Homo sapiens: one gene and its partner. The protein of the gene in region 1 purifies or fractionates together with the protein of each later gene. This does not show direct contact. Each region holds a gene or a part of one and is shown on either strand. Other genes may lie near its edges.

Region 1 (2,925 bases):
TCCCCAACACTTGCTGGTACTTTTGTTCGGGTGCCCCCATCCCCTACTATTTGTTTAGGCTAGGGAACTGGGGGCTGTATCCCTGCAGGATGGGGAGGTGATTGGAGTGAACACCATGAAGGTCACAGCTGGAATCTCCTTTGCCATCCCTTCTGATCGTCTTCGAGAGTTTCTGCATCGTGGGGAAAAGAAGAGTGAGCCTGCCTTATGGGGAAACGGGTTCCTTTAATGTGGTGGAAATAGGGGAAGGGCATTCAGTGGGACTTCCTGGAGGGTGGTCTACTGGGAGAAGAGGGCAGGGAAGGAAGGATGTAGCTGGGTGGGGCTCATTTGTCCCTCTGTCACAGATTCCTCCTCCGGAATCAGTGGGTCCCAGCGGCGCTACATTGGGGTGATGATGCTGACCCTGAGTCCCAGGTATGAGCTTTAGGGACAGTGACATGTAATGTGACCAGTGTAATCAGAGGGGGGCACCTCTATTGAGCTTTGTTCTCATTTCTGTCTTTATCTAAGATGAACTGTGTCACACTTGAAATAATCACAAGAGCTGTCTCCCTTCATCATCTTGACTTTCTTATCCCACTCCACTTTGTACACCTGTCACCAGATTGATTTCATCCTGTTACTGCTTTGATTTCAAGCCTTCAATCCATTAACTTGGCATTTAAGGGCCATTTTCCATCTGTCTGTAAATCAACTTTCTAGACCTGGCTGTAATACCTTCCTATATGAATACTCAGCCAACCTGATTTCCTACTCCCATGTTTTTTATTTATGCTGTTCTTGTTTTATATGGTTAATATCAGATCCATCCTTTTAGGCTCAACTTAAGTTCTTTCCCCTTAAAGCTTCTCTTAGTATTCTAGAATGACATTAGTGCTATTGATTTAACACTGTTTGTCATTTGGTGCCCTCATGTGGTGTACATCTTTTATGTACATGTTGCACTTTATTGCTAGAAGACAGAAAGTGAGTTGCCATTGTATTTTGTAGTACCTAGCCCATGTCCTGTCCATATATTTATCAATGTGTTGATGAGAGACTTGAGGTGGAACTCAGGATGGGGAGAATGCCTGGGTTTGGCTAATAGGGTGATCTGTGTACTTTCAGCATCCTTGCTGAACTACAGCTTCGAGAACCAAGCTTTCCCGATGTTCAGCATGGTGTACTCATCCATAAAGTCATCCTGGGCTCCCCTGCACACCGGTGAGGGAGAGGCTGCAGTGTGATATGGGGATGGGCAAGGTGTGCATGTGTCCTTGAACTAGGCTTTGTACTCCTTCCTTTCTCTCTGTCCATTTTTCTCTATAGGGCTGGTCTGCGGCCTGGTGATGTGATTTTGGCCATTGGGGAGCAGATGGTACAAAATGCTGAAGATGTTTATGAAGCTGTTCGAACCCAATCCCAGTTGGCAGTGCAGATCCGGCGGGGACGAGAAACACTGACCTTATATGTGACCCCTGAGGTCACAGAATGAATAGATCACCAAGAGTATGAGGCTCCTGCTCTGATTTCCTCCTTGCCTTTCTGGCTGAGGTTCTGAGGGCACCGAGACAGAGGGTTAAATGAACCAGTGGGGGCAGGTCCCTCCAACCACCAGCACTGACTCCTGGGCTCTGAAGAATCACAGAAACACTTTTTATATAAAATAAAATTATACCTAGCAACATATTATAGTAAAAAATGAGGTGGGAGGGCTGGATCTTTTCCCCCACCAAAAGGCTAGAGGTAAAGCTGTATCCCCCTAAACTTAGGGGAGATACTGGAGCTGACCATCCTGACCTCCTATTAAAGAAAATGAGCTGCTGCCATCTTTTGTGGGCAGTTAGTCAGGTGCTGCTCTTTGTGGTGTGGTGGGCTCTGGTCTGTTCTGCTCGGTGCTGGGCCTGGGAGCAAAGATTCCCATGCTTGGCTACAGATACTGACAGCTGGCCTCTGAAGGAGGGTGAAAACTTCTGCTTGACAGTTCCACATCCATAGTGCATGGTCTGATGAGTGCGGTTGCTGACATGGGTTTCTTGGTAAGCTCCTGAGGTAATGGCAGCCTCAGACCCCTGCCATTAGGGGCCAGTGGTGGTTTGCAGAGGGCAGTGGCACTTAGATAATCTGGTTGCTGGTCTGGCCAGGGTAGCGTTCAAACCTCCTGTTGGCCTCTTCACTGAAGGCATCACCTGCAGAGTGGACAGGCAATTTGGGAGGCGCCCTGCACAGAGGGAGGGAGATAGATGCACTGTGGAGAAGGGTGGGTAGAAGTGGAGGGACTGAGAGCTCTACAGGAAGGTGGGAAGATGGAGAAACAAGCTATGGAAAAGAGAATGAACGTCTTTCCCTCCCATCCCCTAATCTTCCTGGGTTGCTCTTCCCATCAAATACCAATGTGGCAGTTGTGCACCCAGATTCTATGTCCATCATATTTGCAGTTACATTTCATTGCATTGTTGGTAAAGTCACTCTCTGCTACTTCAAAGTTTGGGTTGATGACAACCTGTGAGTGAGAAAAAGGCCACTTAACCCAGCGACAATCCTCGAATTCAAAGGTGTCTTTAACGCTCCCCCCACTCACCCATCTGGAAGCCCCAGACTCCAGGTACCTGGAGAATGTAGTTTCCTGGCTTCACATCCGTGATGTCAATCCACTGACAGTCAATGTCATGCCGGTAGAGATCCCAGCAACCCACAGTGATGCCTTGCTCTCCAAAGTTGGCACACTCATACCGCTTGGAGACATCTGGAGGGATTGGCATATGTCAGTGTAAGGAAAGGCTGTGCAATGGATACCATGTGGTTCACTTCAGTCCCCAACTCACCCTCCTGACACTCAGTGTCTTCGAGACAGAAACTAGCTTTGTGGCCCTCAGCCACCTTGGTGCCATTTGGGGTGAGGATATCATAGTGAGTGAAGATGTCCATGCTGTGGTAATGCCT
Region 2 (3,832 bases), about 57 Mb from region 1:
ACATGAAAAAAATTAAGCAAAACAAATGAAAAAAGCATAACACCAAAAAAAAAAGGCCAACATATTAAAACAAGTAGTTGAGATTCCTAACTTTATGTATTTCACTAAGGACGGGTGAAAACCTTGTAATACATTGATGCTACTCCAAGGATGTATGACAAGGAAACTATAACTGACTACTGCGAAAACTTCCTTTGTCTCCTGGTTTCTTTACAGGGTAAAGAACCTTCCATCAATCCCAGCAAACTATAGGCCACAGGCCAAATCCAATCTGCATTATGGTTTTGTAAATAAAGTTTTATAGGAGCTCAGTCATGCCTGTTTGCTTACATATAATCATGGTGGCTTTCACACTACAACAGCAGACAACAGCAGGGTTAAGTAGATATGACAGAGACCACATAGTCTAAAATATTGCCCAACTGGCCATTTACAGAAAAAGCTTGCTAACCCGTTTTACACCATAACCAGAATGCCTTAATACTCAGATTTAATCTTATGACTCCCCTGCTCAAATTTCTCCAATGAGCCCCTGCAGCACACATTGTTGGCTCCCTATCAATAGCCATTCCTTATTCTTTCTTGAAGAAGAAATCCAAGTCTATTGGGATATTTATTATCCCAATCCCCCTCCTCAGCCTCAGAAACAGAAATGATTATTCTAAGCTAATCAGGTATTTACCTTCCCAGTGCCTGGTTTGGGAATGAGCATGTGGTGTGACCCAGCCAGTGAAATGTTACAGGAAGCCCTTTGCATGCTTCTAAGTTTTCTCCCTGTTTAAAAGACACATGTGAAGAAAAGCAGCCCTTGCGATGTTGTGTTGTGAGAACAAGATGTTTGGAGCTGCTGCGGATTAGCCAACCATGAAGGGAGACGTGAATAAAACACTGTCAACAGCACAGCTGAAAGAGGGAAAAGTGGGATCCTAGGATATCAATGAACAACCAAAACAACTCTGGTTCCTACTGTTTTAGCCACTGTTCATCTAGTATTTGCAGTCCAAAGCATTCTACCCGGTAAATTTCCCATGGCACACAGGATAAGACCTACTCATTTCTATAGTATTAAAAAGTCTATCATAAACTTGCCTTAGCTAAGTATTCACCTCATTCCCAACCTCTCGTATCACACACTTTTGGTACTAGCAAAAGTGAACTGCTCAGAAACCCTGCCATGTTCACTCAAGCATCTTGTCTTTTGCACTTGCTGCTCTTCCTCCCAAACAGGCAATCTCATTAGATGTTCCTTCTGGCAAACACACGACCTCGCTGCATGTTCCTTCTGCCAAACATTCTTCTTCTGCTTCTTTACCTAGAAAAATTCTTCTCTCTCTGCATGCTTACCTTAAATCATACCTACTTTTTCCCAAAACTTTCATTCCTCATCACATATGTCTGGCACATAATCAATATATAATAAATCATAATTATAAGCTTCCAGTGGGCATCTAGCACACAGTAAGCACTGAATAAAGTAGTAAAATAATGAAAATGACAATGATAACAAAAAGCTCCTGTCTGTATTTTTAATTGTTTGTGGTCTATAGCATTAGAAAAATGGTTACTATCTAAAAGACATTTGATAGTTATATGTTAAGTGGACAAGTGAAAACATAAATAGAAATGTTTTCTTTGTAAATTCTGTTGAAAAACCACAGAAATGAAATGGAGACAGCTCTATTATGAGCACCTTAAAGATCAAAACTACATCTATTCCATCTTTGTCTCCTGCAACTTATAAAACCTAACTTACAAAAGCTCTTTGATAAATAGATGGCTAAATTAAAGGTGTCCTCATACAGTTTGGACTATAAATGTATTAGGTGTCCACAACCAGGTAGCATACTAGCGTTTTTGTTAGTGTGAAACGTTTTTCTGCTTTTATTATAATCTGCTGAGCCTAGAGTTGGGCAATTTGTATATTTATTATGACAATCTTTTGGCAAATGGTAGCAGAGCATCTTGTTCTAACAAAATTACTGTTATGATGACAATTAACCAGCAGGTAGAAGAACACATCTTGTTCCAACAAAGTAAATATATCTCTTTCCAACTTCAAATGAGGAGGAATGAAGTCAGTAATAGTGAGACCTTATTGGGACAAGCATATGTAACATGACTTGTGCTTCAGTGTTCTTTTGTGATCAAAAATTCCTTACTTTTACTTTTTTATCTATGGTAGGACCACGCAAAGCAGGGGTCCTCAACTCCCAGGCCACAGACTCATACCAGTCCATGGACTATTATGAACCACACCACACAGGAGGAGGTGAGCAGCAGGCAAGCCAGGGAAGCTTCATCTGTATTTACAGCCACTCCTTATGGCTCATATTACCGCCTGTACTCTGCCTCCAGTCAGATCAGTGATAGCACTAGATACTCATTGGAGCATGAACCCTGTTGTGAACTGCCCATCTGAGGGATCTAGGTTGTGTGCTTCGTATGAGAATCTAATGCCTGATGATCTGTCACTGTCTCACTTTGCCCCCAGATGAGACCATCCAGTTGCAGAAAAATAAGTTCAGAGCTTCCACGGATTCTACATTATGGTAAGTTGTATAATTATTTCATTATATATTACAATGTGATAATAATATAAAGTAGCACAATAAATGTAACATGATTGAATAATCCTGAAACCATCCCCACCCTCCCCCAGCCCATGGAAAAATTGTCTTCCACAAAACCGGTCCCTGGTGTCAAAAAGGTTGGGGACAACTGACTAAAGTAATTCACTATCACAAGTCTTACCTGGATTGCTGTTTTCAGAAGAGATTTTTAGCATCTGTTTTTCTTTGTAGTCAGAAAGTAACTGGCAAATTCTATGTATAAAAATGTAATAAACCAAATTACTATTTTAATACTGATATAAAAAAAACTTACCAAATGTAGAATTATTAAGAGTATTTCAAACAATATCAGAATAACAGAACTTAATAGTATTATCCCATCCACTTATGAATACATTCTACAAACTTCTCTTTAAGCTTCTAATTAAAGAAGAAAAAAATGTAAGGTGAAATAGTCATAAATCGAGGGCACTGTGACCCAGTAAATTAGCTAGCATTAGCATGACATAATAGAAAGTGTCCCAACTCTAAATAAGTCCTAGCTCCATAATGAACAGCTATTTGTTCTTGGACAACTTGCTTCTCTTAGGCTCAATGTCTTCTTCAACAAAGTGAGGACTTTGCTGCCTTATTTCACTAGGTTGTTATAAAGGTTTAACGAGATAACATTTTTTAAATGCTCAGAGAAATAGTAAAGCAATGGAATAATCTGTTCCTAAACTTTATGACTAAAATTATCTTGGAATCCCAAATAAAACCCAATGCATATTTTGTTCATAGGTTCTAATATACAAATGTTGTAGTTTTCAGAAAATGTTATTAAGTCCTAATTTTGCTTCTTAGTTGTCCTACTCTTTATGGCTTATAATTCAGGGCATCTCAACTATGTCATAGTTTGTAACTAAATTTATTCATAAATATCTCATTAAAGTAGATAATGTGATTGTCCACTATTACGGAGTTGATCAATCACACCAAGGGCAGAAAAACCAATGGATGTTAAGACCTGACTTGGACCAACGATCCTTCTCTACAGACTCAAACTCTCAGCCAGTAGATGTCTGTTAGGATAATGCTTTATATTGATGTTCAATTCCAGCTGACATGGGAGACCAAAAGTCTACTTTTATTTTTTTTTAGTTTCCACAGAGAAGTAGCAAGCTGACATTCTGTAATTTTCGACATACATACTAACAATATATTTTGCACCGAACATGTTATTCAGGTCTAAGTCATCTCATAGACCATCTTACATGACTATT

Evidence for each region.
Region 2: the proteins of LOXL3 (region 1) and POTEE purify together in Homo sapiens (affinity purification with mass spectrometry; one large-scale study listed by BioGRID and IntAct). This does not show direct contact.

What each region holds. Positions count from the first base shown.
Region 1 is NC_000002.12:74,531,509-74,534,433, forward strand, and holds the end of LOXL3 (lysyl oxidase homolog 3 isoform 1 precursor), read right to left. Parts: intron 2,924-2,925; coding exon 2,808-2,923; intron 2,729-2,807; coding exon 2,592-2,728; intron 2,486-2,591; coding exon 2,374-2,485; intron 2,172-2,373; coding exon 2,098-2,171; 3' UTR 1,478-2,097; coding exon of another isoform or gene 1,312-1,477; 3' UTR 1,207-1,311; coding exon of another isoform or gene 1,111-1,206; 3' UTR 750-1,110; downstream 1-749. Other genes in the region: HTRA2 (serine protease HTRA2, mitochondrial isoform 1 preproprotein), read left to right, coding at 89-194, 348-417, 1,111-1,206, 1,312-1,477. UniProt on the Homo sapiens protein: Protein-lysine 6-oxidase that mediates the oxidation of peptidyl lysine residues to allysine in target proteins.
Region 2 is NC_000002.12:131,229,826-131,233,657, reverse strand, and holds part of POTEE (POTE ankyrin domain family member E), read right to left. Parts: intron 2,823-3,832; coding exon 2,752-2,822; intron 1-2,751.